Linked DNA regions of Homo sapiens: all the other regions are linked to region 1. The links come from fine-mapping of genetic effects on gene expression. A gene starts in region 1. Each other region holds a variant in brackets. All regions are shown on one strand. Distances are between the middles of the regions.

Region 1 (10,578 bases):
CCAGCACTTTGGGAAGCCAAGGCGGGCAGATTGCTTGAGGTCAGGAGTTAGAGAGCAGCCTGACCAACATGGCGAAACCACGTCTCTATAAAAAATACAAAAATTAGCCGGGTGTGGTTTCATGCACCTGCGGTCCCAGCTACTTGGGAGGCAGAGGCAGGAGAATCACTTGACTCCAGGAGGTAGAGGTTGCAGTGAGGCGAGTTCGCGCCACTGCACTCTAGCCTGGGTGACAGAGCAAGACTCCATCCATCTCAAAAAAAAAAAAAAAAAAAATGGCCAGGCGCAGTGGCTCACGCCTGTAATCCCCACACTTTGGGAGGCCAAGGCGGTGGATCACTTGAGGTCAGGAGTTCAAAACCAGCCTGACCAACATGGTGAAACCCCATCTCTACTAAAAATACAAAATTAGCTGGGCGTGGTGGCACACACCTGTAATCCCAGCTACTTGGGGGGCTGAGGTAGGAGAATGGCTGGGAGGCGAAGGTTGCAGTGAGCCAAGATCGCGCCACTGCACTCCAGCCTGAGCAACGAGAGTGAAACTCCATCTCAAAAAGAAAAGAAATTCAAACTTCTTTCTTGTCCTTTTTGGGGAGATTCAGCAACGGTTTCTCATGTATCCTTCCAGAAGTTTTTTGTGCATAGACAAGCATGTTACACACCACACACTCTGTCTTTCCCTCTTTCTTTTGCACTTTGCATCTGGCACTCCACTCCATGTTAGTCTACATATGGTCTCCACATCTGCCCCTTTTCCAGCTGCAGGGTCTTCCTGGTGTAGGCAGCCCTGGTTACCGGACCATCCCCCTCCAAATAGGCAGCAGTTTCTTTACAGAGCTTCTCCATTAGCAACTGTGTTGCCAAAAGCATCCCAGGATGCACACTTAGTACAAGGTCAGCAACACTGCTGCAGTGACCATCCTCAAGGCATGCTGAGCCCGGAGTAAGAGCCCACCTGTGGGGAAAGGTATGGGGAACGAGAAAGGAGAGGGTGTCCAGGCATAGGCAGACCAGGGGGCGACAGCAAGGACGCACAAGTTCCCTGGGAACCCCTCTTGGGGTATGGGGAAGGGGTCTGTGTGCTGAGCCAGCTCCATGTTGAGTTCAGGCTTCTGCGGGTGCAAGGTGACTCCCCGCACACCTGTGTTCTGAAACCCCAGCTCCTCTCTAACACCTGCTCCCAATATCAGCTGGCTGGAGGAAGCATCCCTTCGGGGCCCTGAGATCTAGGCAAGGAAGTCACTTTTGGACGAGGGAGGGCATTGTCATGCCCTTACCTGCCAATGAGAAATGCCCACCTGGGGGCGGCACCCGAAACTGAGCCAGGCAGAGCCGAGTTGGGGAAGGACTGGGTTTGCTGGGGAGGTCTGTTCAGGGCTGTCTGCCTGAGCAGCTGGGAGGCTGCACACACTGAGGCCTCAGACCACCCAGGGAAGCTTGTCCAGATTTCAGATTCTTAGGCCCCTCCCTCTTCAGACCCCCCCAATCAGGATGTCAAGGGTCCCAGGGCCCCAGAATATGCCTTTTACAAACTCCTGTAGAGATTCTAAGGTGCAACAATGTTAGAACCACCGCCTCTCCCAGGGTCTTTCTCCCCCATATGTCCCCAGACCCCTTCAAGGAGTTCACAATTTGGCCGGCGCAGGGACTGACGCCTGCAATCCCAGCACTTTGGGAGGCTGACGCAGGTGGATTGCTTGAGCCTGTAGGAGTTCAAGACCACCCTGGGCAACATAGTAAGAGCCCATCTCTACAAAGAATTTTAAAAATTAGCCAGGCGGCCGGGTGCAGTGACTCACACCTGTAATCCCAGAACTTTGGGAGACCAAGGCAGGCAGGTCATCTGAGGTCAAGAGTTTGAGCCGTCTCTACTAAAAATACAAAATTTAGTTGGCCATGGTGGCACGTGCCTGTGATCTCAGCTACTCGGGAGGCTGAGGCAGGAGAATCCCTTGAACCAGGGAGTCGGAGGTTGCAGTGAGCCGAGATTGCACCACTGCACTCCAGCCCGGTGGTAGAGTGAGACTCCTTCTAAAAAAAATAAATTAAAGGCCGGGCGTGGTGGCTCACGCCTGTAATCCTAGCACTTTGGGAGGCCGAGGTGGGTGGATCACAAGTTCAGGAGATCAAGACCATCCTGGCTAACATGGTGAAACCCCGTCTCTCCTAAAAAATACAAAAAATTAGCCAGGCGTTGTGGCGGGCGCCTGTAGTCCCAGCTACTTGGGAGGCTGAGGCAGGATAATGGCATGAACCCAGGAAGCGGAGCTTGCAGTGAGCCGAGATCATGCCACTGCACTCCATCCTGGGCGACAGAGCAAGACTCTGTCTCAAAAAAAATTAAATAATTAATTAATTAATTAAAAAAATTTAAAAAGGCCAGGCACAGTGGCTCACAGCTGTAATCCCAGCACTTTGGGAGGCTGAGGCAGGCAGATCACAAGGTCAGGAGTTCAAGACCAGCTTGGCCAACATGGCAAAACTCTGTCTCTACTAAAAATACAAAAATTAGCAGGGCGTGGTGGCAGCAGGAGAGTTGCTTGAATCCAGGAGGCAGAGGTTGCAGTGAGCCGAGAGTGTGTCATTGCACTCCAGCCTGGGCGACAAGAGCCAGACTGTCAAAAAAAAAATAATAATTAATTAATTTAAAAAAAATTAGCCAGGCATGGTGGTGCACACCTGTGGTCCCAGCTACTTGAGAGGGAGGCTGAGAAGAGACAACGGCTTCCGTCTGGGAGGTCAAGGAAGGCTGCAGTGAGCCATGATCACGCCACTGCACTCCAGCCGGAGCAACACAGCAAGACCCTATCTCCAAAAAAAAAGAAAGAAAAAGAAAAGTTAACGTGTTTTTGTTTTTGTTTTTGTTTTTTGACGAAGTCTCACTCTGTCGCCCAGGCTGGAGTGCAGTGGCACGATCTCAGCTCACTGTGACCTCCCAGGCTGGAGTGCAGTGGCGTGATATGAGCTCACTGCAACCTCCCCTTCCCAGTTTCAAGAGATTCTCCTGCCTCAGCTTCCCAAGTAGCTGGGACTACAGGCAGGCGCCACCACGCCCAGCTAATTTTTTATTTTTAGGAGAGACGGGGTTTCACCATGTTGGTCAGGCTGGTCTTGAACTCCTGACCTCAGGTGATCCCCCTGCCTCGACCTCTCAAAGTACTGGGATTACAGGAGTGAGCCACCGCGCCCATCCAAGTTAACATTTTTAATATGTGTCCCCTGCCCCGGGACCTGAAAGCTCCCAAAGAGAAAGCCCCTTTTGTGTTGTTCTTTTCCCTTTTCTCATCCGTGTACAACAAGCAGAGCCAGGCACACTGAGGCTGTGAGAGTGATGGGAAACATGTGTTGAATGAGTAAATGACTCCACTGAGCAATACATCCTCCCCCAGAAAAATGCACATTTGGACACACACATTTTGAAAGCAACTTTAGGGCTGGGTGCAGTGGCTCACACCTGAAATCCCAGCACTTTGGGAGGCCAAGGTGGGAGGACTGCTTGAGCCCAGGAATTCAAGACCAGCTTGGGCAACACAGCGAGACCCCATCTCTACAAAAAACATATATAAATATAAAGGTTTTAAAAATTAGCCAGGCGTGGTGGTGGACACCTGTGGATCCAGCTACTCGGGAAGCTGAGGTGGGAGGATTGCTTGAGCCCCAAAAGTCAAGGCTGCAGTGAGCTATGATTGTGCCAATGCACTCCAGCCTGGGCAACTGAGTCTCAAAGAAGAAAGAAGAAAGAAAGCAAGAAAGCAAGAAAGGAAAGAGAGAGGAAGGAAAGAAGGAAGGCAGGCAGGCAGGCACAACTTTAGGAGGAATCACACCTCTATTTACGCCTAGTGGTCCATTATTGGAACGTGACGCCTGTGGGAGTTATCTCCTACTGCTCAAGGTCACTGCCAAGGTATGATTTATCAATTCAAAAAATTGCAACCTCAGGCATAAATGGGTTAAGCCCACCCATAGAAGCCCCATTAAGAATAAGGTTGGCTGGGCACGGTGGCTAATATCTGTAATCCCAGCACTTTGGGAGGCTGTAGGCCGGCAGATCACTTGAGCACAGGAGTTCAAGACCAGCCTGGGCAACATGGTGAAACTCTGCCTCTACAAAAATTTTTAAAAATTAGCCAGGTGTGGTGGTGTGTGCCATCCGGGCTTCAGGTCAGATTAGGTTTCTGTCTAAGGGCAGCCTCCTCCACTGGCACACAGTCTGGGCCAGGACATGCTGGCAGAATTGTGCAACGTCGTTGTTCTGAGCCGCAATCGAGCAGCTTTTATGACCAGCTATGAAGCGCTCTTCTAGTGCCAGGGCCTGGAGTTATTGAAGTTTCAAAGGAGTTTTTGTCCACCCGAGATGGCAAGCGGAGAGCAGATTCAGGCCAGGGCACTGCGCTCAGCGCTTTGCGTGCATTACCTGCAGGGACATCCCCACAGGCCTTTCGGATGGGGTGGTGGTTATCACCGTTTGACAAAGAAGTAAACTGTGGCTGGGAGCAGTAAAACACCTTGCCCAGGAGTGTCAGCCAACCTGGGGGTGGCAGGGCTTGAACTCAGGCCGGCGCCCTCGGCAGTTCAGCCCCCTTCCCTCAATTGCCACCATCTGAGTGCAATTCGCTAGCTACTAGGGCACATGAATCCGTGCGGGTCTCTGCCGCACCTGTCTTGCGGGGCCCAGCTGGGTGTCCGCCAAAGCACCAGGAGCGCCGAGTTCCGCGGTAGCGCAGAACCAGGTGAAGGCCTCGGCCAGAGGCGCGCCGGGCCCGAGGAGGGTGGGGCTGCGAGCGCTCGCCCCGGCGGCCTTTGCGCCCCAGTGCCTGCCCGGCCTCCGGAGTCCCCCGGCTGGGGGTGGGCGGCGTCCGGCCAAGACCCAGTGTCCCCACCCCCGCGTCCAAGCCCCGCCCGCGCGGTGGCCCCTCCTCGGGAAGGTAAGCACCACCTTCTCGGGGAGCGGCCCGCAGAGCCAGTGGCCGGCGGGCGCCCCGCCCCCAGCGAGTAGGGACCCGGAGCCACTGCCGCGCCGCAGTCCGGGCTCCCCGCGCCGCCGCTCGCTCACCTGCGCTCCCGCCCGCCCCTCGGTGCGCGCCCGGCCCGCCAGCCGCCGCCGCCCGCACCCCGAGCGCCACCATGAACTCGCTCTTCAGGAAGAGAAACAAAGGCAAATACAGCCCCACTGTGCAGACCCGGAGGTGAGGAGGCGCCCACAGCTCCGCTCCGGGACGCTCTTGCCCCTGTGGGCGCACAGGACCTGGAAGACCTCCCGGGCAGTGTAGGAATGGGGGGTACGGGGGTCCAGGAACCGGGAACTGAACCCGGAGTGCGGGACTCTCGGGAACGCGGGACCGAGGCCACCCTGAAGCTGGGAAGCGCCGCCAGGTGGGAAGGGACTGGCTGGGGTCCCCGAGGGGGAGCATAACACAGGGGACTCCGGGAGCCCAGGGAGCATTGCCTTGAGGGCCTAGGGCACGGGCAGCTGAGCTGGGGGTACAGGGCACCCCCGTGTCCCAGGGTCGCTCTTGCGCAGAGGGTCGCACAGGACCGGGAATAGTCACCTGGATGAGGGGGCGGAGTTTTTGGAGGACCGGGCACTCAAGGCGGGGTCGCTGCGGGCGACCCAGGAAGCTCCGTCCAGGGGGCGCCCTGAGGCAGGGAAACTGAGCTGGCGTCGGGGGGCGCTCTCCAGCGCCTCTGAGACCGCGCAAGTGTTCCTGGCGTCGGGGAGGCGAGGGATGGGTGTCCGGAGGGGGCGGGCCACCCGCCGCTGCACTTCCCGGCACCTGCCACCCTGCGCGCCAGAGCCGCGCCCGGAGGCCCTGGGGGGTGTGGGGTCGGGTCGAGGGGCACAGGGGGAGGCACCCCCTTACCTCCCCACCCTCTGGGTTCTGAGCGGAGGTTGGGCGGCTTCGGGGCCTCCTCTTCGAAGCTCGGTTTCGCAGGGGTGTGGCTCCCTGCCCCCACCCCAGCCCCGAAACTGGCGGCGTCTCTGAGCCGCGGGTTCCCAGGGCGGCCTGGGAGGGGAATGGCATGTCTTGATGTGTTTGCAGGGAGAAGCAGCCCACGTCCCTTTTGATAAGCCTAATGTGTTCACTTAATAACCGGTTTAGGGGAGCCTGGTGGAGATGCTGAGATTGACGGAGGGGGTGGGAATCCAGCCCCTGCCTTATATCCCCACTTCGGAAAATAGAGTGGGGGCTCTGGGCTAGCAAGGACCATTTTGCCAGCTTCTCGGACAAGAGGCTTCAGGCAGGTGAGGGGCCCGCACATTACATGGCTCTCCTGTCTGGGAGTTCTGCCCCCAAGCTGCTCTCACTGGGAGCCCCCACTGTGCCCTCAAGCAGCTCCTCACTTCTTCCCTAGGCAAGGAGAGGCCTCTGGGCCCAGGGCTCCCACTCAACCCCTGCAGTCCGGCCTAGGCCGACCAGTCGGACAGGTGCAGGCGGCGGGGCCCTAGCACGCTGGAGTGCGACACTCCATTCCGGGGCCTTCCAGCCCTTTCAGAAACCCCCCTGCCCTGTGATCCCACCCACCCGTATCTCCGTTTGGGCTCTTTCAAGCTCAGAGGCATTACCCGCCTTTAGAGATTTCCCCACCCCTCCCCTATCTTTCACAACCCCAGAGACTGGGCAGGGCCTGCACACCCCTCCTCCATGGCTGCGTCCAGCTGGCACTCAGACCCAACCAGAGGCCCGTCCAGTCCCTGCACTGTTCCCTGGGGCATTGCACAATTGGATGCTCCGTGCCAGCCGTGGAGAACCGTTCTGTCCTCTCCACCCCAGAGACTAGACCCATCCAGTCCTTCACACATGCAGACACCCACATACCAGTGGTGGGGCCAGGCCTCGCCCCGCCCTCTGCCTCCTCCCAGCCTCCCTCCTTCGTGCAGCTCTCCATCCTGAAGGCCCCAGCTTGGACCTAACAAAAGGTTCTAATGAACCCAGACAAGCTGGGAGGGGTGCGGGCTTTCCCAGAAGCATGAGGATGAAAGGCATCCCATCCTTTATAGCTGCAGGGACTGGGAGGGTCTGGGGTGGCAAAGATTTGGGGTCCTGCCACTCTCTGTATATCTGGCCCAAGGCAGCCACGGTCTGTCCTAGGCTGATAGCCATTGGTCCCAGATCTCCATTTAGACGTCTCTTTCTCCAGGAAGCCCTCCTGATTCTCTCCCCAGCCTGGGGTGCAAGACCATTCCTTTGAGCCTTGCCACCCCAGCACAGAATGAGCACAGCCACAGCCCTGAGCAGATGTCAGATGCCTCCCCGGGTGGTCTCCAAGCCCAGTGCATCCCTCTGCCCCCTCCCCTTAGTGGGGACTAGTTCGCAGACTGGATTGTGGGGTGGGGGTAGCCCTGTACCCCATCCTCTCAAACGCATCTCTTGAACATTGCCTGATGCCCAGCCAGCCCCATAGCAAGTGTCTTGGTGGGGGGGTGGAGGGGACAGACTTGCGGCTCTAGGCTGTGGTCGCTGGTCACAGGGAGTGGATCCCCAAGTTATTCCTTCACTCTGAGTTTTCCAGGGGCCCGCTCCATTGTCTGGGGGAGGACAAAATTGCTGGTGAGATTCAGCATGGGGGGCAGTAGGAGCTCCAGCACTGAGAGCAGAATGCCTCACTGTTGATCCTGGCATCTCCACCCTGGAGCCTCTCGAAGCCTTGTTTTCCCTTTCTGCACAGCACGGGTGGTAATACTGAGTGTCTCATGCATAGGGCTGCTGGGAGGAGCAGTGCTGTAGCACACAGGAGGTGCCCGGATGAGGGTAGCAGCCCTTTCCGAGCCCAGGGGACCCAGGAGCCCCAAGTGGTGACTTTCATACCCAAGGTAGTCAGGCCTTTGGACTACAAAGTGTGGATTAGTGAACGGAACACCCCACCGAGAAAGCCACCCCTTCCAGTTTGTCTGCCTTTTAGCAGCTGAAGCTGGGGAGGGCCGGGACAGGGTGTGAACCCCGTTGCTCCCGTTGCCCGGGTTCCTAATGACAGGTGTGGGAGTTGATGTTCACACCTGAGCTAATGACAGAGTCAGGCCAGATGGTGCAGGTGACCGAGGACAGCCTCCAGCCTAGTAGAGAGGCCCTGGAGGAGACCCGCTGCCACCCTCCTGGCTGTGCGACCTCAGAGGAGCTGCTTGGCTTCTCTGAGCCTGTTTTCTCACCTGTGGGATGGGAATAAGCACGGTGCCTGCCTGGCGATGTTGGCTCAGGATTAAATGAAATAATGCAGGGGAAAGGTTGTGAATGATAAGCGGCCGCAGGTAATAGCATCTGTGACGATTACAGTTATTAAGCAAATGCGGGCAAGCTAGCTGTGGTGTACCCAGGGTTAAACTTGATATCATGGTGGACAGGCTGTGCACTGCACAATTCCATAGGCACTGTTGCTGGGTTTTAGCACGTGGTCGTGGAGGAGACGTGGACAACCTCCCTGCACTTGAGTCGCTGGCAGTCACATCACAGAGATAAGATGGAGTTAAGCTTCAGTACATGTATGGTTACATGAGCGTCGGACTGATGGGGCCAGGCAGGAGCAATGGAGCATAGAGCCGGACAGATGAGGTCTCCACCCTGGCCACTCACATACTTTGTGACAGGCCTCAAGTGAGAGTTGTCACAGTCAGAGCACAGATGCTGGGAGGTGAGGGAGGACTTCACAGAGGAGGCATCTGACCTGTCACGGGGTGGGATGGAGTGGCCAAGACCCAGCTCTGCAGTCAGGCTCAATTCTGCCTCTGCTTGAAAAGAAACATAGCATCCCTGAGCCCCAGCGCTTCTGAATTTGTTGAATGGGATTAATCTTGCCCCTCCACCCAGACCTGGGTCCCAGTAAACACCCAGCAGCCTGGCCTTGCCTAGACGGGTCTTGCAACACTGGGGCCGCCCTGATGGAGCGCTCCTGCATGGGAGGCAGGACCCCAGGCTTTGAGGGGAGAGCTGGCAAAAGGGAAGCATGCTCTACTGGGAGGCACCTGGGGTACCCTGAGCCTCTTAGTGGTTAAGAACACAGTGTTTTATTAGCTGGGCATGGGGGTGGGTGCCTGTAGTCCCAGCTACTCAGGAGGCTGAAGCAGGAGAATCCCTTGAACCTGGGAGGCAGAGGTTGCAGTGAGCTGAGATTGTGCTACTGCACTCCAGCCTGGGTAAAAGAGTGAGACTCTGTCTCAAAAAGAAAAAAAAAAAAGCAAGAACACAGTGTTTGATGCTAGCTGGGCATGAGTTCAGGCCGCAGCTCTGGGTCTCTTAAGCTGTTTGATCTTGGGCAAGTCACTTAATGTCTCCGAGCCTCAGTTTCTTCATCTATGAGGTGGGGTGACAACAGCAACCCCCAGTTGGTGAGGCTGCTGGGTAGATCAAATGAGGGGATGCACATGATGGGTCCAGCCCATGACCTGGTTCAGAGCGAGTGCCCGGCAAATCATAGCAGCCAATACTAGGAAGCACACACTGCTATTAAGAGTCATGACGGGCTGGGCGCGGTAGCTCACGCCTGTAATCCCAGCACTCTGAGAGGGTAAGGCGGACGGATCACTTGAGGTCAGGAGTTCAAGACCAGCCTGGCCAACATGGTGAAATCCCATCTCTACAAAAATAAATATTAAAAATTAGCTGGGTGTGGTGGCGGAAACCTGTAATCCCAGCCAGATACTGGGGAGGCTGAGGCAGGAGAATCACTTGAACCTGGGAGGCAGAGATTGCAGTGAGCCGAGATCACACCACTGCACTCCAGCCTGGGAGACAGAGCGAGACTCCGTCTCAAAAAAAAAAAAAAAAGATTCATGACTGAGCCAAGCCCAGAGCTGACCAGGGAGCTGACTCAAGCAGACACGCACATGCACCCATCGATCAGTGTTGGTAGGAACGCCTGATCGATATGGGAGGGGACCCATGTGGGTAACAGCTTAGAGAGAGCCGCCCCGCCATTTCTCAGGCACATACTGTGAGCCCAGCAAGGCCATGGATGTTACATCTCATTCTGACAGCGGGCCTGCCATGCAGGTGGAAGTGTCCTGTTTCACAGAGGGCTCACATTCACCTTGAGCTCACAGCTCACAAATGGCTGATGCTGGAAGTCCAGGGGGGCCTGGGGAAGCAAATGAGGCCTCCCCACTCGTACCTGGATCTGGCAGCAACTGTGCCTGGGGACTGCTCCAGGCCAAATGGTAGAGTCATTGGTGTTTGTGCTCACTGCCTCTACCCCCAGCAACCCCCTCTACCTCTCTTCTCTCTAGCTTTGCCCCTCCATCCCTTGCCCAGTTCTCTTGGAAGAAGGAATGAGACTGGATAAATTCGATTCAGGACAGAGCTGAGCTTACCTGGAGGAACAGCTGCTAATGGTAGCATTTCAGGCACTGTCGGGCGGATCATGTTGGGAAAGGGTATTTTGGGGGAGAGACTCAGCTCCGTCCACACCCTTTAAGCAATACCCTAAGGGTGTGGTTGGGGGAGGCCCTGGAAGTAGGGGACCTGGGGGAGAAGCTGCTTTAGAGAGCTTCCAAAGCTCCTCGTCTGGGGAAGAGAACCCTGGCTTCCCAGCGTGCAGCTGCTCTCTGCTCCCGGCAGGTCTGTGCCGGTGTTACCGGCACCACCTTGC
Region 2 (10,578 bases), 40 kb after region 1:
TTATTTATTTATTTATTTATTTTTGACACAAGGTCTCACTCTGTCTCCCAGGCTGGAATGCAGTGGCATGATCACGGCTCACTGCAGCCTCAACTTCCCAGGCTTAGGTGATCCTCCCACCTCAGCCTCTCAAGTAGCTGGGATTACAGGTGCATGCCACCACACCTGGCTAATTTTTTGTATTTTTGTAGAGATGGGGCTTTGCTACATTGGCCAGGCTGGTCTCAAACTCCTGGGCTCAAGCGATCCGACCCCATTGGCCTCCCAAAGTGCCTGGATGACAGGCATCAGTCACCATGCCTGGCCAGCTTTCCCAATGTTACTGGCGTGACCCTGGGCAGGTGACTGGCCCTCATTCAGCCTCAGCCTCTGTGTCCTCATCTGAGAGATGGGACAGTAACCATGTGGACCCCTGAGGCTCTGTGAGATGAAAGATGATATAGGTCAGTGCTCAGCAAACAGAACCTCAGGGTTGAAGGTGTGGCCAGCATCTCCTTGTGGCTCTGCAGGGCCCCGTGAAAAAGAGAGCACCATCATGCCCACCCCCGAGGCTCCTGGGGTGGCCACACGTCCCCAGCCCTCAGCCCACCCTCTCCTTATTGCTTCTCTGCCCTCCTGGCCAGGACAAGCTGAACAACCAGAGCTTTGGGACTGACCTGCCGCTGGTGGACCACCAAGTGGAGGAGCATAACATCTTCCACAATGAGGTCAAGGCCATCGGGCCCCACCTGGCCAAGGACGGGGACAAGGTGGGGCGTGTGCTGGTGTGGTGGGGACCCAGGGATGGAGGGGGCCGCGCCTGCTTCCTGGCCCTGACCCATGCCCTCGGCTCTGTCCTCAGGAGCAGAACAGCGAACTCCGGGCCAAGTACCAGAAACTGCTGGTGAGGAGCTCCCTGGGGGAAAGGCCTCATGGGGAGAGGAGAGGATGGGAAGCTTGGAGTCGGGGGGACAAGGATGTATTGTTTTAAAAATGACATAGGCAGCTGGGCATGGTGGCTCACGCCTAGCACTTTGGGAGGCAGAGGCAGGAGGATCACTTGAGCCCACGAGTTTGAGACCAACCTGGGCAACATAGTGAGACTCCAGCTCTACAAAACATTTAAAAATTAGCTGGGCTTGGTGGCATGCCTGTGGTCCCAGCTACTTGGGAGGCTGAAGTGGGAGGATCGCTTGAGCCCAGGAGGTGGAGGCTGCAATGAGCTGTGATCGTGCCACTCCACTCCAGCCTGGGAAACAGAGCAAAACCCTGCCTTTAAAAAAAAAAAAAAAAAAAAAAGGCGTGCAGTAAACGTTTCAATCAGGAGAGGGGTTGAGGCGGGAAGAGAGGTGCCCCAGCCTTTTCCTGAGCGGCTGCAAGGTCTGCCCTGGTTGTTCAGGGAAAACCCTAACAGGCCCCAGGGGTACAGCCTGTCCTGCTCATTTCTTTATTATCTGCTGTGTGCCAAGTATGATGCCACTTGCTTTCTATACAAAAGCTTTCCATTTTCCTTCCCAAACCTTTAAAGAATGCATTCTTTTAAAAATTGCATAAGTGTTATGCAAACGCTTCCTTGTTGCCAATGTTTCAGACAGAGAATACAGAGGCAGCATTGTGTCGCTATAAGGAGCCATGCTTCCTCTGCTCCTTAGTGTTAGTGGTGACACCTTGAGCGAGTTACTTAGCCTCCGGGAGCCTCAGTTTCCTCATCTGAGAAATGGAGCTCCTACATGTTCCTGTCTCATAGGGTCGCTTTGAGGATGAAATGAGTCAATGTTGCAGAAGTTCATCAGGCGTGGAGGGCCCCACGTACCAAAATGCAAACATCCCTCCTTTCCCTTGCACACCCGCTTCTCAGACGTACAGTGGTGCTTTCCTTCCAGCCCTCTATAAGACGATCATGATACAGATAAAAGTAGAAGCTATAGTTACTGATATTTGTTGAGCACCAACTATATGCCAGTCTCTGTACGCTGTGAGGTCAGGACTGTCATCTTCCCCATTTACAGATGGGCGAACTAAGCCTTCACAAAAATGTCAGTTCCGTAAGGGTTTTGTGTGTTTCGTTTGCTGTATCCCCAGTGTCTGGAGCCATGTCCAGCATGTAGTAGATGCTCAGTAAACATTTACTGAATGAATGAATGAATGAATGAATGAGTTTCAGGGGTTCAGGTGACTTGTCTAAGGGGGACTGGCCTGGACGTGGCTAAGCTGGGCTTGTCCTCAGGCCACCCATAGCTGGGCTTGTCCTCAGGCCAGCCATAGCTGGGCCCTGCAGGAGGTAGGGAAGGAAGCGAGCAGTGGCAGCGGGCTGAGGACGCAGCCCTTTCCTTGCCCCGGCCCCTTCAGGCAGCATCACAGGCCCGGCAGCAGCACCTGAGTTCGCTGCAGGACTACATGCAGCGCTGCACCAATGAGCTGTACTGGCTGGACCAGCAGGCCAAGGGCCGCATGCAGTACGACTGGAGTGACCGCAACCTCGACTACCCCAGCCGCCGGCGCCAGTATGAGGTGGGTTCTGGGGGCCTGGGGCATCAGGGAGGAGGCAGCCCTGGAAGGAGCACGGGACCGCCAGGCTGGGCACTGAGGCCCCTCCACTGCCCCCCACTGCAGAATTTCATCAACCGGAACCTGGAGGCCAAAGAGGAGAGAATCAACAAACTGCACAGCGAGGGCGACCAGCTGCTGGCGGCCGAGCACCCCGGGAGGAACTCCATTGAGGTTCATGCACCCCGAGACCAGACACCTCCCCCAGGGTGGCTTCTGGTTGGCCGCTGCCTGTGGGCCGCCTGGAGCTCGGGCAGACCCCGGAGCTGGGGGTCCTGCAAGCTGCATCTTGTGTCTGTCTGTCTCTTTCTTGCTGTGTCTGACTCTGCCTCCTCCATTTATCCTGATCCGTTGACACTTCTGCCCTCAGCCCCTGGACTTCTGAAGCCCCTGTGGGGTCTGTATTAGTTTCCTAGAGTTGCTGCAACAAGTTAAAACAAACTTAGTGGCTTTAAACAACAGAAATTCATTCTCTCAGAGGTCTGTGGGCTGTAAGTCTGAAATCAAGGTGTCTTAGGGCCTCATTCCCTCTGGAAGCTCCAGGACATGTGCCTTCCTTGCTCTTCCGGCTTCTGGGGGTTGCCAACAGCCCTTGGCTTGTGGCTGCATCATTCCAGTCCCTTCCTCCGTCTTCACATGGCCTTCTCTCCCCATGTCTCTCTGTATCCTCTCTTCTTATAAGGATATCAGTCAGTGGATTTAGGGCTCACCCTAATTTCAGGATCCTTAACTAATGACATCTGCAAAGATCTTATTCCCAAATAAGGTCGCATTCTTCCCAACCCCCACAATGCCACCAACCCCGCCTGAGATGGAGTTTCGCTGTTGTTGCCCAGGCTGGAGTGCGATGGTGTAATCTTGGCTCACTGCAACCTCCACCTCCCGGGTTCAAGCAATTCTCCTGCCTCAGCCTCCCAAGTAGCTGGGACTACAGGCGCACACCATCATGCCCAGCTAATTTTTGTATTTTTAGTAGAGACAGGGTCTCATCATGTGGGCCAGGCTAGTCTCAAACTCCTGACCTCAGGTGATCCACCCGCCTCGGCCTCCCAAAGTGCTGCGATTACAGGTGTGAGCCACCATGCCTGGCCAGGGTCATGGATTTGGTGGGACACTGTTCGGTCCATGACAGTGCCTTTGTACAGATTTGCCGAAGGCACCACAGCCCCCACTTGCCCTTTGTGCACTGCACAGCCTGGGCATCCGTATGTGGCATCCCTGTTTGGCTCCTTGACGTGACCCCTCTCTCCTCCTCCCACTCCTGAGCAGAAGCTGGCTACCCCTGTGGTAGCCACACCCAGACAGATGCCAGATGCCTCCCTCCCCCGCCATGCCCCAGCCCAATATCCCAGCAGTCCCTCCCTTGGTGTCTGCAGTACCTGCCCAGTGGTGACCGGCCCCTTCTCTTCCTGGCAGGCGCACATGGAGGCTGTGCACGCAGACTGGAAGGAGTACCTGAACCTGCTCATCTGCGAGGAGAGCCACCTCAAGTACATGGAGGACTACCACCAGGTACTTACCTTTCCTGGGAGTCCCCCCAGCACCGGGGGTGCTACTCTCTGAGAGCGCTCAGTGCCTACCTGGCTCATGTGTGGCCTCGTGCTCCTTGGTCCAGGAGCCTTGCGGGGCAGCCATCCCAGGCCCCCAGCACCCATGCTTCTGATGGCGTGTGCAGACATGTCCCAAGCTTGCCGGCCCCTGTCCAACTTCCCTGGGGACCAGGGCCAGAGTCTGATTCCCCAGGTCACATGGGGCCCAGGGTGAGTGTGTAGGGTTTTAATTTTGGTAAAATCTATAATATACATGCAGATACATAAAACAAAATTTGCCTTTTTTTTTTTTTTTTTTTTTTTTGAGAGAGTCTTGCCCTGTCACCCAGGCTGGAGTGCAGTCGTGCCATCTCGGCTCACTACAACCTCCACCTCCTGGGTTCAAGTGATTCTCCTGCCTCAGCCTCCTGAACAGCTGGGATTACAAGTGCCCACCACCACACCCAGCTAATTTTTGTATTTTCAGTAAAGATGGGGTTTCGCCATGTTGGTCAGGCTGGTCTCGAACTCCTGACCTCAGGTGATCCTCCCGCCTCGGCCTCCTAAAGTGTTGGGATTACAGGTGTGAGCCACCACACCCGGCCAGTTTGCATTTTTAAGTGTACAATTCAGTGGCATTCATTGCATTCGCAATGTTATGCAACCATCACCACCATCTACTTGCAAAACTTTCCATCACCCCAAACAGAAACCCTATACCCTGGCTGGGCACGGTAGCTCATGTCTGTAATTCCAGCACTCTGGGAAGCCGAGGCGACTGGATCACCTGAGGTCAGGAGTTCAAGACCAGCCTGGCCAACATGATGAAACCCCATCTCTACTAAAATACAAAAGTTAGCCAGGTGTGGTGGCCCATATCTGTAGTCCCAGATGGGAGGCTGAGGCAGGAGAACTGCTTGAACCCAGGAGGCAGAGGTTGCAGTGAGCTGAGATCGCGCCATTGCACTCCAGCCTGGGCGACAGAGTGAGTCTCCGCCTCAAAAAAAAAAAAAAAAAACAACCCCGTACTCATTAGGCAGTAAGTTTTCCATTCCCACTCCCCCAGCCCCAGGTCACCTTTGGTCTTCTTGCTGTCTCTATGGACTTGCCTGTTCCAGAAGTGTCACACCTAGAACGAATATGAAGAATCAGTGGGATCATGCAATCTCTGCCCTTTTGTGTCTGGCTTCTCTCACTGAGCATCATGTTTTCCGGGTTCATCCGTGTTGTAGCATTTTCAGTGCTTCACCCCTTTTTATGGCTGAATCATATCCTATTGTATGGCTAGACCACTGTGTTTATCCACTCATCTGTGGCTGGACACTTGTCTGTTTCCAGAGGAATGAGAGTTCTTAAGAAGCTGCGGGTAATTCTTAGGATTGAGGTGTCTGGGGAAAGCTGGATGTGGGCGACGCCGTGTCACTCCTCATTCCCTGTCTGAGCCGCACAGTGGGGGCTTCAGGTCCTGTTTATGGCTGCAGCCCAGGTGCTCAGCCCAGGGGATAGCTGACAGTGAACCAAGAGTTGATAGACTGAAGAATGGGCAAGAGAATTTTCGAGAACAAAAAGGGGAGGCTATTATCAAAACCTAGAAAGAAGCTATAGTATTAAGTCTGGATGTTCCTAGTACAGAGAGAGGAACTGAATCAAAGACACCTCAAGACTTACTGATA[C/T]ATCCAAGAAAACATGTCACAGAGGTGGCATCTCATGGATGGGTGGGAAGGGACCTGGCTTTTCCCAGTGAGGCCCCTAAGGAGCCAGCTCAGGGAGGGTGGGGCTGTCTCCACGCAGAGGAGCCTCAGGCTCAGCACAGGGTCCCATGCTGGACTCCAGGTGAACCGGAGGCCCAGCCCCGCCTGAGGGATGAGCTTGAAGCCTCCGACAGAAGCCCAGGTGCTTCTAGTGGTTTCCTGGCTGTAACAGAGCCACCTTCTCCCCTAGTTTCACGAAGACGTGAAGGACGCTCAGGAGCTGCTGCGCAAGGTGGACTCGGACCTGAACCAGAAGTATGGCCCTGACTTCAAGGACCGGTACCAGATTGAGCTGCTGCTGCGGGAGCTGGATGTGAGCGATGGCCCAGGACCCCTGCTGGCCCGGGGGGCGGGGGACCCCTCTACACCATGCCTGCCCTCAGCCCTGTACAGGCCCCTCCACAGCACCCCACCTGCTGAATCCAGCCCCTGCTCTGCGTCCTCCCACCAGGGGGAAGGCTGTTGGTCTCACCTGGGCCCCTGACCCCGTTCTCTCCAGGACCAGGAGAAGGTGCTGGACAAGTATGAGGACGTGGTGCAGGGGCTGCAGAAGCGAGGCCAGCAGGTGGTGCCCCTCAAGTACCGCCGGGAGACTCCGCTCAAGCCCATCCCCGTGGAGGCACTCTGTGACTTTGAGGGGGAGCAGGTGCGTGGGGCCAGCTCCTCTGTTCACATCACTACAAAGTTTTTGGGGTAACATGGTTGGATCCCGGGCCTCAGGCGCCGTTCTCAGGAGCCTGTGCCTGTCTCCGTGGTTGGTGTCACTCTGCCAACCCTTCCCCTGGTGCAGGCCAACTGGCACCCCTATGCCGCCCCCACCTCGGCTGCCCTGGCCTTGTGTTCCACCAGCTTAGCAACCCCAGTCCCTCCTCAGAAGTCCCAGGCCAGGTTCTCATTGGCTCACTGTGAGTCACGTGTCCATCCTACACCAATCACTGTGGCCAGGGAATGCCAGGGTCCACCCTATACCAATGACTGTGGCTGGCGAATGCCAGTCATTGGCCAGGTCCAAGTCACATGTCCATCTGGAGCTTGGGAATGGAGAAGGAGAGACCACAGGGACTGGGAATTGGGAGGGAAGGTTCCCCAAAGGGAAATGGAGGTGGGTTGCTGGGCCGGCAGCCTCAACACATGTGCTTCTCCTGCATGCCCCTCCCCACTCTACGGGGAGGGTCCAAGTGATGAGCCGGGGCTCCCCAGGTCCAAGAGTCGGGGGCTGAGATGGCAACCGGGCTCCCAGGCCCTCAGGCCCTGCCGGGATCCTGACTGTCCAGCCTGCCCCCGCCAGGGCCTGATCTCGCGGGGCTACAGCTACACCCTGCAGAAGAACAACGGGGAGAGCTGGGAGCTCATGGACAGCGCTGGGAACAAGCTGATTGCTCCGGCCGTGTGTTTTGTGATCCCCCCCACAGACCCTGAGGCCCTGGCTCTGGCTGACAGGTACAAGGGCAAAGGCGGGAGTCTGCATGGACCAGTCCCACCCCCAGGGCTTCTCAGGCCCCATTCATAGCCCCGGGGATTTGGACTCAGCCTGTGGGGAGCGCGGGGTCGCTGACACTCTCCATCTGCACCCCCTTGGAAGTTCATGCAGGAGAGGGGCAGATTGTGGGCCAGCTGACTTGCTAAACATGAATGTCTAGCTCTGGGCTTCGTCCTGGCCCCCTCACGAGTTTCTAAGCAGTTTCTAAGGGCCCCTGACTCCCGCACGCACTGCTCCCTGTACTTGCAGACCCCAGCCCCTTGGCTGGAGGACTCAGCTGGGATAAGGGCTGCCTCCTCTTTGCTCCCAGGCACCTTCTTCCACTGCACGCACCGCTTTTTATTAAGTGACTAGCGTATGCGTCAGTCTCATTGGGCCTGGGCTCCTTGAATTTCCTCTCTCCAGGGCCTAGTTAAGTACCTGGTACAAAGTAGGTGCCCAGGAACTCCTTGCTGAATGAGTGGATCATTCAAGGAATGCCTTCATTTATTAAGTATTTATTGAGCACCTACTGTGTATGCTCCCTCAGAAGTAACATCTTGGTGGTGATTATTGGACAGACAATTTTAGGTAGTGAGACTTCCTACGAAAGAGGAGGGAAGGAGGGAGAAGAGCTCTGAGCCCAGGAGCACAGAAAGGCCAGTGCCACAGTGAGCACTTGCTGTCCGCATCTAAGGAGCTGTCAGGCTCCTCTGGGGTGTCTGCCCAGCCAGAGTCCGCAGTCCCGCCTCTGTGGGTGCAGGGGGTGGTGGGCTGCCCAGGTTCCCAGCTCATTTCTGTCCTCACAGCCTGGGCAGCCAGTACCGGAGCGTGCGGCAGAAGGCAGCTGGGAGCAAACGCACGCTGCAGCAGCGGTATGAGGTGCTGAAGACCGAGAATCCCGGAGGTGGGTGCCAGGGCCACTCGCCTGAGGCTCTGGGGGTACCGGGGAGGAGGGGCTGGACCAGGGTCTGTGCTGTGGATGAGACGGCGGGGGGCTGGCTGCCTAGGTCCATCCCTGGGCCTCACACCCCTGGCCCGTTGTCACACCTGCCTGTGTCCTCCCTCCCTCCACAGATGCCTCTGACCTACAGGGGCGGCAGCTGCTGGCTGGCTTGGACAAGGTGGCCAGCGACCTGGACCGGCAGGAGAAGGCCATCACAGGGATCCTGCGGCCACCACTGGAGCAAGGCCGGGCTGTGCAGGACAGTGCCGAGCGGGCCAAGGACCTCAAGGTACCTGCGGGTCAGGAGCACAGGTGGGGCCGGGGGAGCCCTGCACTGGCCCCCTGGGGCCCCTATTTGAGGTCTTTTCCCCATGGAGTCTTGGGATATTCACTGCAGCTGTCTGTCAGGGACAGCCTGCTGCATGTAAAAGGGTCCCAAGTCATGGAGGTGGCAGGGCTGCTGTCATTACCTCCCCAGGAGAAAGAGCTGGCAGGACTTGCATTGTTCCTGCACGGCTTGTCGATCTGACGCCTGGCATGGCACATGGGCTGTGGAATTCCGCAGGACTGGGTCACCGGCTGGCTTGACTGCAAACACGTTAGCGTTTGTATTTATAAACTCCAGGCCTCAGTGTCTTCAGTAGGATGGGTTGGCCCTGCTCACAGGGCAGTGGCGAGGACAGGGTGAGCTGATGCCAGGGGGGACGTGGAGGGGCCACCTCCCCCCACCTCCTTTCCTATACAAAGTCTCCCACATCCTCAAGGCAGCCCTCTGAGGCAGTGAGTAGCACTCCAATTTTACAGAAGAGGATCTGGGATTGGAGAAGTGCCATAGCCCCTGATGGGGCCTCAGAGTGAGAGCCAAGTCAGGGCGAGAGGATGCCGGTCTCGGGTGTAGCCTGACCCCACAAGTCCCTTCCTAAGCTGCTGGGAGTCGTCACACCCCCACCCGTGACTGGGTGGAGTCGTAGTACTCACCTCCCGGGGTTGCCGCAAAGATTAAACAGAAGCGTCCGCGTGCAGTGCTGAGGACAGCACAGGCCCGGCAGCTGCCTGGGTGCTTCTGGTGTCACTAGTCCATTCCACCTCAGCGGTTCCCTGGGATGCTCGTGAAAAATACAGCCCTCAGGCTGGGGTCCAGATGCCGGGTCAGAGCCCCAGAATGTGCCAGGCCTCTCCAGCTGCTTCCACTGTGCCTGATGTGGGAATCTGTGCTCACCCTGGGCACATCCTCAGGGGAAGGGGCTGCCTGGCTGTGTCCAAAACTGAGGGGCCCTGGTTCCCACAGAACATCACCAACGAGCTACTGCGGATTGAACCTGAGAAGACGCGGAGCACGGCTGAGGGCGAAGCCTTCATCCAGGCCCTCCCAGGCAGTGGCACCACACCCCTGCTGAGGACCCGGGTGGAGGACACCAACCGGAAATACGAGCACCTCCTGCAGCTGCTGGACTTGGCCCAGGAGAAGTGGGTGGCAGACAGGCAGCATGGAGGTTGGGGTGGGGTCAGGGGGCCAGGTGGGCATCCCCCGACGCCTGATTGGTGCTCTCAGGGTTGATGTGGCCAACCGCCTGGAGAAGAGCCTGCAGCAGAGCTGGGAGTTGCTGGCCACACACGAGAACCATCTGAATCAGGATGACACAGTGCCTGAGAGCAGCCGTGTCCTGGACAGCAAGGGGCAGGAGCTGGCGGTGAGTCTAGGGCCCAAGTCCTGGGAGTCCTTCTCTGAGCAGGTGAGAGCATCTGGCACATCCACCCGCCCGTCTGGATAGATGAGGACACCAGCATCCAGTCTCCCCAGGTTTGGAATGCCCAAATTGGGAACTGCAAATGGAGGCCCACAGCACAAATCCAAGCTATTCACGGGATCTGTGTGACTTACGGGATTTCGGGTGCCAGCATTTTAAGATCAAATATCTGCAATAGCCAGTGTAGTGGCACATGCCTGTAACACCAGCCATTCAGGAGGCTGGGGCAGGATTGCTTGAGCCTTGGAGTTTAAGTCCAGCCGCCTGGACAACGTTGCAAGACCCTATCTCTTAAAAAAAAAAAAAAAAAAAAAAAAGCATAAAGCACATAACAATCCATGTTCCCAGTATCTCTTGCTGAGCAGAGCTGGCATCCTGGGCTGCAGCTCAGAGGGCAAGTCAGTGGGCAGAGGAGCAGCTGCCTTCTCGGCCTGCTTACCTCGCAGTTGCCACGGGCCCCCTTCCCACACTGCCTGAGCACAGGAAACATTCAAGTCTGTGACCTGAGGCCCCTTATTCACACTCCCATCTCACGACTTGCTTTTGCCACAGCCTCATGACCAGACAGTGGCAGGCTGTTCTCGCGCAGGGCACGAGCTGCCTGCTGCAGGGTTTTTAG
Region 3 (10,578 bases), 25 kb after region 1:
ACTTTCTGCTCCTGTAGATTTCTGCATTCTGGACGTTTCTTATCAATGGAATAATATGTGAGCTTTTGTGTCTGGCTTCTCTCACTGAGCATAACATTCTCGAGGTTCCTGAGGCTGTAGCAGCTGTCAGTCCTGCCTTCATTCTTTGGCCGAATAATAGAGATAGACCACGTTTGGTTTATATTTTCATCAGTTGATGAATATTTGAGTTGTTTCCACTAAAAAGTGGAGGCCAAAAGGCTATTATGAATCATGCTGCTGTGATTCATCTATGTACAAGTTTCTGTGCAGGCATAGATTTTTTTGTTTTTTTGTTTTTGTTTTTTTGTTTTTTATTTTCTGAGATGGAGTCTTGCTCCATCACCCAGGCTGGAGTGCAGTGGCGCCATCTCAGCTCATTGCAACCTCCGCCTCCCAGGTTCAAGCGATTCTCTTGTCTCAGCTTCCCGAATAGATGGGATTACAGGCACATACCACCACGCCCAGCTAATTTTTTTGTACTTTTAGTAGAGATGGGGTTTCACCATGTTGGCCAGGCTGGTCTCGAACTCCTGACCTCAGGTGATCCACCTGCCTCGGCCTCCCAAAGTGCTGGGATTGCAGGCGTGAGTCACCGCATCCAGCCCAGACATAGGTTTTCATTTCTCTTGGATAGATATGTAGGGGTGGGCTGGGTGCAGTGGCTCACGCCTGTAATCCTAATATTTTGGGAGGCCGAGGCAGATAGATTGCTTGAGCCCAGGGGTTCAAGACCAGCTGGGGCAACATGGCGAAACCTCCCTCTCTGAAAAAAAAAAAAAATTAGCTGGGCACGGTGCCAGGCGCCTGTAGTCGCAGTTACTCGGAGGCTGAGGTACAAAGATTGCTTGAGACTGGGAGGTCAAGGCTGCAGTGAGCTAAGATTGCACCACTGCAGTCCAGCCTGGGCAACAGAGTGAGACCCTGTCTCAAAAAATAATAAGGCTGGGCGCAATGGCTCACACCTGTAATCCCAGCACTTTGGGAGGCCAAGGCAAGTGCATCACCTGAGGTCAGGAGTTCGAGACCAGCCTGGCCAACATGGCAAAACCCCGTCTCTACTAAAAGTACAAAAGTTAGCCGGGTGTGGTGGCACACACCTGTAATCCTAGCTACTCGGGAGGCTGAGGTAGGAGAATCATTTGAGTCTGGGAAGCGGAGGCTGAGTGAGCCGAGATCATGCCAGTGCACTCCAGCCTGGGCAACAGGGTGAGACCCTGTCTCAAAAAAATAAATAAGTAATAAAAATAAAAAAAATACGTAGGGGTGGACTTGCTGGGTCTTATGGTGACTGCTTAACTTTTTGTGGAATTTCTAGACTGTTTTCCACAACTGTACACCATTTTGCATCCCCACTAGCAAGGCACGAGGGTTCCAATTTCTCCACATTTTTGCCAACACTTGTTATTGTCTTTTTTATTATAGCCATTGTAGTGGATGAAAAGTGGCATCCCGGTGTGGTTTTGGGCTCTTGGCATTTTAAATTAATCTGTGAAGTACCTACTGTGTGCTGGGAGCCCTGTAAGATCGTCACATGGAATTGTTAAGGGCCTAGAGTCCTGGCTCTGCCATCTAATTGCTGGGTGACTTTGGGAGAGTTATTTAACCTCTCTGATCCTCAGTTTCCACACCCATAAACGGGGATAATAATACAATTACCTACCATGCTAACACCCAGCTCTCAGGGTTGTCATGAAGATTGAGTCAGAAACAGTGAGGAGCCTGGCACGTAGAGAGTAAGTATTAGCTCATATTACGATGGTGGAGATTGTTATTGGTGTGATTTTCCTAGCATCCCCATGAGTAACTTCTAGCCCAGTCGATCACATGCCTCTGGAGTGAGATTGCTTGCGGGGAGAATCGCGGTTCACCAGCTGTGTGACCCTGAGCAAGTGCTTTGATGTCTCAGAGTCTTGGTTTCTTCATCCCCTTCTTCAAAGGGGCACACCAACCTCCCCGGGGACTTAGGGCAAGGATGATATTGAGCTGGTGCCTGTGAATATGTCTGAGGTCTGGCAAAGCCCACAGCAAGTGGCAAATGCCCAGGATGCCTTTGTGGTCATCGCCAGAGGACAGATGGAGAAGCGGAGGCTGTACGAGGGTAGGGCACTTGCCTGAGGCTGTCTAAGCAGCAAGCAGCCCAGTGGGCCTTGGGCCTGGCCTGTCTGCTCATAGCTTCCTGCTACCGCTCACAGCTTTGTCCCATCAGGAGTCCAAGGTCCCTGAGGCAGTGGTCATTGCCCCACAACTCCCATGTCCTCTGGGGGGCTTCGGCTGGAACAACAGGCCCAGCCAGGATAGAGTCCAGAAGGTGGCTTTTCTTGCATCTGCCACAATCCATGAAAGGGCTGGTTTGGGAGCTGGCCCTGTGCCTGAGGTGGGACTGGGCCCAAGAGAGACAAAGGCCCCCACTTGAGCCACAGTACAGACCCTAACGATGCACTGCAGAGTCAGGGGTTAAATATTTGGGGTGAGACTCACCGCCTCTAGGTGCAGCTGGCCTGGCAGATGGTCAGTGACTGGGGTGGGAGTGTGGGGGCCCAGAAACTCACATTCTCCATGTGGCCTGCCCAACCAGGAAGTGGGGGGTTAGGGAATGAGGGAGGAGTCGGGTGGACCCCTGACCTGGCTGTTCTAGAAGCCCACCTTATCCCTTCTTACCGAGATCCTCCATCCAAAGCCCCCCACTGCTAAGCCTTCCTGGCCACCCCGCCAAACACTGGCTTTCTCCACTGCAGGACTTGTCAGTGCCTTTGCTGGCTCATGAACATATCAAGGATGGGGTTTTCCTAAGTGCCTTGACCAAGGAAGAATAAGACTTGTAAGAGTTGGGTTCCTGGGACCCCACTTTGGGACAGGCTGCCCCCAGTTGACCTTGCAGAAGGTATGGCTTGGGTCCTGTTCCCTCAAGATCCCCCAGCTCCGGTGTATCCAGGTCTGCCACAAAGCTGGCCCTTAAGCAAGGTGTGGAACCTAGACGGATGGATCCCCAGCATGTTGGCTGCTGCCATTTCTGCCCCCAATGCCCCCAACATCAACAGCACCTGCATTGCTGGTCCATGACTCCGGTAGGTGTCCAGGTACCCTGGGGAACCTGCAAAAATAGTAATAATAATACAGCTTCCTGGGCCCAGCTCTGGAGACCTGGGTTCAGCAGGTCTGGGTTAGTGGCCGGGAATCTGAATTTTTCATGCTAGGCCCCAGAACCTTGATCTGGGGAGCATCACTCGAAAGGGCTGGTGGTCCCCTCTGCCTTGACGGTCAAGAACCCCGCCCTGGCCCACCCCACGGGACGTGCCAGGACCTGCCTCTCTCTATGGCGTGTCCTCATTGGAGCCTTCTGCACAGGAACACCAAATTCTTCCTTTTGCTTTAGCACCCAGCCGACACCACCTCCTCCAGGAAGCCTTCAGTGACCACCGCTGTCCCCACCCAGCCAGTCCAGAGGTTCCCCTGGGCATCCCCAGCCTCCAGGCCTGCCTCAGTCTCGTGACTGTTTCTATAAATACTGATTTCCTCCTGGTCTGTGGGGTGGATCAGGGAGGGAGAGGCTTGTCTTTGTGAGGTGCAGGGCCCGCACACAGCAGGTGCTTAATGAGTGTGAGTAGAAGGCAACTTCTGCGTGCCTAGCCACTCAGGCCCCACTGTGGGTCTTCAGTGGAGACAGGGGAGCTATCATCGCTGGCTAACTGGGTGACAATGGCCAAGTTGGTTTCCCTTTCTTTCTTTGTTTAAAGAAAACAACAGAAGGAGGCTGGGCATGGTGGCTCACACCTGTAATCCCAGCTACTCAAAAGGCTGAGGCAGCCGAATCACTTGACCCCAAGAAGTGGAGGTTGCAGCGAGCCAAGATGATACCACTGCACTTCCAGCCTGGGTGACAGAGTGAGACTCGGTCTCAAAACCACAGAGGCAGAGCTGGGTGATCTCTAAGGCTCCTTGACAACTAAAATCACAAACCTTTGTTCAGACTTATTCTGTGCCCGGCTCTATGCACAGTCCTTTGGTAGTGTAACCTCACTTCCATTCATAACCCCTGCCACCCTGGCCCCGGGAAAGGACTGTTACTCTAGTCCATCGGATTGGGAGACAGAGGCACAGATAGGCAAGGGAGCTGGGCCAAGTCACACAGCCACTAAGTGGCTGATGGGAGCCAAGATCTGAACCCACAGCTAACCCCAGGGCCAAAGTCTTAACTAACTCCCATTAGAGCATTTTCCAGAGTGGTCTGTCTGTGGTTCTGGGGGACGGGGGGCAGTAGACAAATGTGACAGGAGGGGACACAGAGACAGTGAGGGAGAGGGCCAGTCTGCTTTCAAGACTTTTTTTTCTTTTCTTGTTTTTTTTTTTCGAGATGGAGTCTCGCTCTGTTACCCAGGCTGGAGTGCAGTGGTGCAATCTCAGCTCACTGCCACCTCCACCTCCCAGGTTCAAGCAGTTCTCCTGCCTCAGCCTCCCGAGTAGCTGGGACTACAGGCGCATGCCACCACACCTAGCTAATTTTTGTATTTTTAGTAGAGATGGGGTTTCACCATGTTGGCCAGGCTGGTCTCAAACTCCTGATCTCAGGTGATTCGCCCGCCTTGGCCTCCCAAAGTGCTGGGATTACAGGTATGAGCCACCACACCGGGCCTCAAGTCTCTTTCAGGCGCTCTGAGAAGATCAGGAGAAAGGCTGGGCCTGACGCCACCACGGCTGTCACACCTCCTGACTTGTAACAGCGGGCAGCCCAGTGTCACCACGGAACCCAGTGCCACTGCGTTCCCATGAAATTTATTTTGGCAGCTAATTCACTCATGGTGAGGGCTTCTGATTTCTGATTAAAATGGGGAGAGAAGTTACCTTTGTAAACACATTTAACTCTAAAATAAAACGAGTAGGTTGAAAGAAAAATATCAGGTAATTAAAAATAAGACTGCTCACACAAAAGCTTGTTCCCGAACGTTCATAGCAGCGTGATTCTCACGATGGCCCAAAGGTGGAAACGGCCCAGATGGTTGTCAGCTGTTGAATGAATAAGCAAAATGTGAAGTAGCCACGTGATGGAATATTATTCAGCCATAAAAAGAATGAAGTTCTAATAGATGCTGCAATATGCACAAAGCTTGAAAACATTATGCTGAGAGAAGGCAGACGCAAAAGGCCACGTGTTGTGTGATTCTATTTATATGAAATGTCCAGAATAGGCAAATCCATAGAGAGAAAAAGTAAATTCCTGGTTGCCAGGGGCTGGAGCGGGTGGGGAATAGGGAGTGACAGCTTGTGGGTGTGGAGCTTTGGGGTGATAAAAATGTCTGGAATGAGATAGTGGTGATGGTTGCAC[G/A]ATTCTGAATGTGTAGTACTAAAAGCCAGTGACTGTGTATTTTAAACAGGTGAATTTTACGGTATGTGAGTTATCTCCCAATTTTTCAAATATGGTGCGTTTTGCCAACATGGCAAAATAGAAGCATTAGAAGCTGGGTGTGCTGGTGGTGCCAGTGGTCCCAGCTACTCAGGAGGTGGAGGTAGGAGGATTGCTTGAGCTCAGGAGTTCGAGGCTATAGTGAACTATGATCACGCCACTGCACTCCAGTCTGGGTGACAGAGTGAGACCCTATCTCTCACAAAAAAATATGTAGTCGGGGCCTGGTGGCTGACATCTGTAATCCCAGCACTTTGGGAGTCCAAGGTGGACGAATTGCTTGAGCTCAGGAGTTCGAGACCAGCCTGGGTGACATGGTGAAACCCCTTCTCTACCAAAAGAAATGTAAAAGTTATGCAGGAGTGGTGGCATGTGCCTGTAGTCCCAGCTACTTGGGAGGCTGGGCTAGGAGGATTGCTTGAGCCTGGGAGATAGAGGCTGCAGTGAGCCATGACTGTGCCGCTACACCCCAGCCTGGGCAAGAGTGTGAGACTCCGTCTCAATAAAATGAATGAATGAATGAATGAATGAACGAATGAATGAATAAAAATAAAAAATAGAAGCATTAGAGAGAATGATCAAAGTGGAGGCTGGGCGGGCGCGGTGGCTCACGCCTGTAATCCCAGCACTTTGGGAGGCCAAGATAGGTGGATCACTTGAGGTCAGGAGTTCAAGACCAGCCTGGCCAACATGGTGGAACCCCATCTCCACTAAAAATACAAAAATTAGCCAGGCTTGGTGGTGCATGCTTGTAATCTCAGCTACTGGGGAGGCTGAGGCATGAGAATCATTTGAACCCAGGAAGTGGAGGTTGCAGTAAGCTGAGATCACGCCACTGCACTTTAGCCTGGGTGACAGAGCAAGACTCCATCTCAAAAAAAAAAAAAAAAAAAAAAAGGAGGCTGACCGCCTGCCAGGCGCTGCCTTGTCTCTGTGGCTTTAGTGATGTTGCCCTATGGGAACAGCCCAACTACCTCAAAGGCTCTGTGGGCAGCTCCTGCTCAGAGCGTGGGGCCGGGGCCAGCCAGAGGATGGGGTGCTGGTGGGGACATAGCCCCCACCCACCAGGCACCCCGCCCATCTCCCCTCGGCTTCTGCCCGCAGCATCTCTAACAAGGAGCTCTCGGAGCTGATCGAGCAGCTGCAGAAGAATGCCGACCAGGTGGAGAAGAACATCGTGGACACAGAGGCCAAGATGCAGAGTGTGAGTGCCCCCACTCCCACTCCCACCTGGGTGCCCCGTGCTGCCAGCCCTGTTCAGGACCAGGATCTGTTTGGAATCGGTGATTCTCACCCAGGGGTGATTGTGGCCCCGAGGGAACATGCAGAGACATTTTGGTTGTCACTGCTTGGAAGGAAGGTCCTCCTGGCGTCCAGTTGGGGAGGGGAGACAGGGATGCTGCTGAACACCCTACCGTGCACTGTAGGGCAGGGGTGCCAAGGTCAGGAAGCCCTGCTCTGTGAGAGGAACCTGGCCATTGTCGTTAATACTAGTACCTCCCGGATACTAAGTTCCTCCCTCTTCCTGGGCCCTGTGGAAAGCGTCTCCTGCCTGGAGGAGTGCCATGGGGTCAGGCTCTATGGAAACAGCCCAGCCTTGTCCTTGCTGGGTGACCTTGGACAAGTGAGCCATCCCACCTCCCCATGAACGAGATTCTCTCTAAGCAGGCAGGAGTGATGGTTCCCATTTGGCGGGGTGGTTGTAAAGATTAAATGAGATTATGCAGGTATAGGACAGGGCTATTATCGTCAATATCATTCTCACTGCTCATCCTACTGCTGCCAGCACTCAGGGTGCAGGTCTTTCTCCACCTTTTTTGGAGAAGAGAGATAAAATAGCTGGGCAAATCACTTTCCCCTATCTGTGCCTCAGTTTCCCTTTCTGTAACATGGGGATAACAACTGCCCAGTGGACTCAACGGCATGAAGCCTCTGTACCCTGAGGGACTCACGAGCCGCTGGAATGGTCACCTTCTCTTTAAACCTTCCACCAGCGCCAGCCCGGTGCGATTGGGTTGATGCCTGTTTTGTACCCTGGAGCAACTGAGGTTTAGAAGGGGCTGGGATGATGAGTCAGTGACAGAGATGGTGCCAGCATCGGCCTGCAGGTGGAGTTACCAGATTTAGCAAATAAAATATGAGATGCCCAGTTACATTTGAATTTCAGAACACAAATCATGTTTTAGTAGCAGGAAAGCCCATGTGTTATTAGGGAAAGGCTTATGCTAAAACATTATTTATTGTTTATCTGAAAATCAAGTGTAAGTGGTGATCTGTATTTCATCTGGCATCCCTATGCAGGGGCGACTAAGAAGTGGGACCAGGCCAGGTGCGTAATGGCTCACACGGCCGTAATCCCAGTACTTTGGGAGGCCGAGGTGGGTAGATCACTTGAGGTCGGGAGTTTGAGACCAGACTGGCCAATGTGGTGAAACCTCATCTCTACTAAAAATACAACAATTAGCTGGGCGTGGTGGTGCACACCTATAATCCCAGCTACTCAGGAGGCTGAGGCAGGAGAATCGCTTGAACCCGGGAGGCGGAGGTTGCAGTGAGCCAAGATCGTGCCACTGCGCTCCAGCCTGGGCAACAGAGTAAGACTGTCTCAAAAAAAAAAAAAAAAAAAAAAGGTGGGACCAGAGGAGTGGGAGGCTGAGGGTGGGGAGGTCAGGAGGGAGGTCAAGGTCTACCCGGCCAAGCTGCTGTCCCCAGGCCCAGCCATAGGTATCCAACCCCCTTGGCTGCTCCTGATGGCCCAGTTGCCCACCCTCTGAAGGCCTGTCCACAGCAGCCAAGAGACCCAAGCGGGTAGGTGGGCTGGGGTGGGCACAGTCCACGGGGGTGTAGGGGGCAGATAAGTGGAGACTCTGTTCTCTGCCACCAGCTATCCCCTGCAGGGGCCCCAGGAGTGGGCCTTGCCCTGGCCTCCTGCCTGGGGCCCCCGCCTCCATGCCCCCCTGGGCCTCCACCTCCTGCCTCCCTGGCCTCTGCCTGGCCACCCCACACCTGTTCCCTCCCATCAGCTCCCCTTGTCATTTGCAGTTACATCCTCTGCCATCTGAGGCCCCCTGTGGTGGTGGATTTCTTTCCTTCTTAAATGGAAAACATCTTTTGGGGGTGTGTCTCTTTTTTCCTCATAACAAAAATAATATGTGTTCATCACACACATTTCACGATGGATAAACAAGCATAACAAAGTGAATTAAAATCATGAGCCGGGTGCGGTGGCTCGCGCCTGTAATCTCAGCACTTTGGGAGGCCTAGGCAGGCAGATCACCTGAGCCCAGGAGTTTCAGACAAGCCTGAGCAACATGGTGAAACCTCGTCTCTACAAAAAATATGAAAAATTTGCCAGGTGTGGTGGTGTGTGTGCCTGTAATCCCAGCTCCTTGGGAGGCTGAGGTGGGAGGCTCGCTTAAGCCCGGAAGGTTGAGGCTGCAGTGAGCAGAGATGACACCACTGCACTCCAGCCTGGGCAGCAGAGGGACACCCTGCCTCAATCAATCAATCAATCAATAAAGTCAGTCATGTAGAATTCCACCACCAGAGGTATCTACTGACTATTAACATATTGGTGTATATCTGTTTGACCTTTGTGTATGTGTGTGAGAGAGAGAGAGAGAGAGAGAGAAAGAAGGAAGAGGGTTTAACCTTCTCATTTTATTTCCCTGAAGTATTGACTCAAAATAGGTAATTTTGAACCATTTTTATTTTATTTTTTTGCAGAGACAGAGGTCCTTGCTATGTTGTCCAGGCTGGTCTTGAACTCCTGGCCTCAAGCCATCCTCCTGCCTCAGCTTCCCAAAGTGCTGGGATTTACAGGCATGAGCCACTGTGTGCTTGGCCTGAACAATTTTTTCTTTCTTTCTTTCTTTTTTTTTTTTTTTTTTTGGAGACAGTCTCTCACTCTGTTGTCCAGGCTGGAGTGCAGTGGTGCTATCTCGGCTCACTGCAACCTCCACCTCCCGGGTTCAAGTGATTCTTCTGCCTCAGCCTCCCAAGTAGCTGGGACCACAGGCAGGCACCACCACGCCCAGCTAATTTATTTATTTATTTATTTTCAGTAGAGATGGGGTTTCATCACATTGGCCAGGCTGGTCTCAAACTCCTGACCTTGTGATCTGCCCACCTCGGCCTCCCAAAGTGCTGGGATTACAGGTGTGAGCCACTGCACCCGGCCTATTTTTTTAACTTCAACTGAACCCACTTGAAAAAAGAAGCTAGGCTTTGAAGACTACATGGATCACACAATCTTTTTCTTATGTTCTTTTTGCTAAAGATACTACTATTTATTTCATTTCCCAGTTCTGTTGAATTTTCCATTTTTTTTAATTGAGGGGAGATTCACATAACATAAAATTAACCATGTAATGTGTACAAGTCAGTGGCATTTCATACATTCACAATGTTACACAACCATCTCCTCGATCTAGTTCCCAAACATTTCCCTTACCCCAGAGCCAAACCCCACACCCTTAACAGTTACTCCCCACCTCCCCTTTCCCCCTGGCAGCAACTAATCTGCTTTCTCTCTGTGGATTTATTTATTCTGGATATTTCACATAAACAGAATCATACACTGCATCACACATTTATTCAAATGCTAAACATGCAGAAAACCGTACAGCGAACACCCATATCCCACCACCTGATCCTACAAGGAACGTCTGCTGAATTGGCTTTATCATGTATCTGTCCGTGTGTGTGTGTGTGTGTGTGTGTGTGTGTGTGTGTGTGTGTGTGTGAGATTAGATATATCAGTCCCTATAATTTTTTATTTTTATTTTTTATTGAGACAGGGTCTTGCTCTGTCACCCAGGCTGGAGTGCAGTGGCGCAATCACGACTCACTGAAGCCTCAACCTCCTGGGCTCAAGCAATCCTCCCACCTCAACCTCCCAAGTAGCTGGGACTACAGGCGCATGCTACTATGCCTGGCTCATTTTTGTATTTTTTTTTTTTTTTTTTTTTTTTTAGAGATAGGGTCTCACTATATTGCCCGGGCTGGTCTCCAACTCCTGAGCTCAAGCAATCCTCCCGCCTGGGCCTCGCAGAGTGCTGGGATTATAGGCGTGAGCCACTGCACCTGGCCCCTGTGACTTTAAAAAACTTTTTTATCAAGGTATAACTTATATAAACTCTAGAGAAGTGTCTACATTC

Evidence for each region.
Region 2: its variant is fine-mapped to the expression of PPL in testis (GTEx, PIP 0.97).
Region 3: its variant is fine-mapped to the expression of PPL in lung (TOPMed, PIP above 0.99).

The regions. Positions count from the first base shown.
Region 1 is chr16:4,931,592-4,942,169 of GRCh38, reverse strand. It overlaps PPL (periplakin), which reads left to right and starts at 5,022. Exons shown (of 22, transcript NM_002705.5): 1 at 5,022-5,186. The coding sequence starts at 5,125. RefSeq lists a silencer at 4,680-5,079.
Region 2 is chr16:4,891,135-4,901,712 of GRCh38, reverse strand. It overlaps PPL (periplakin), which reads left to right. Exons shown (of 22, transcript NM_002705.5): 5 at 624-749; 6 at 842-883; 7 at 2,329-2,490; 8 at 2,593-2,700; 9 at 3,943-4,038; 10 at 5,997-6,119; 11 at 6,306-6,452; 12 at 7,095-7,246; 13 at 8,075-8,172; 14 at 8,343-8,500; 15 at 9,500-9,678; 16 at 9,764-9,902. LOC124903637 (a long non-coding RNA gene) reads right to left here and starts at 5,997. Exons shown (of 3, transcript XR_007064965.1): 1 at 5,133-5,997. RefSeq lists an enhancer at 5,610-6,455. The variant C/T (reference allele first, on the strand shown) is at 5,729.
Region 3 is chr16:4,906,895-4,917,472 of GRCh38, reverse strand. PPL (periplakin) reads left to right here. Exons shown (of 22, transcript NM_002705.5): 2 at 6,524-6,623. It overlaps LOC124903637 (a long non-coding RNA gene), which reads right to left. Exons shown (of 3, transcript XR_007064965.1): 2 at 4,942-5,022; 3 at 3,025-3,112. LOC105371064 (a long non-coding RNA gene) reads right to left here and starts at 2,410. Exons shown (of 4, transcript XR_933028.3): 1 at 1,682-2,410. The variant G/A (reference allele first, on the strand shown) is at 5,342.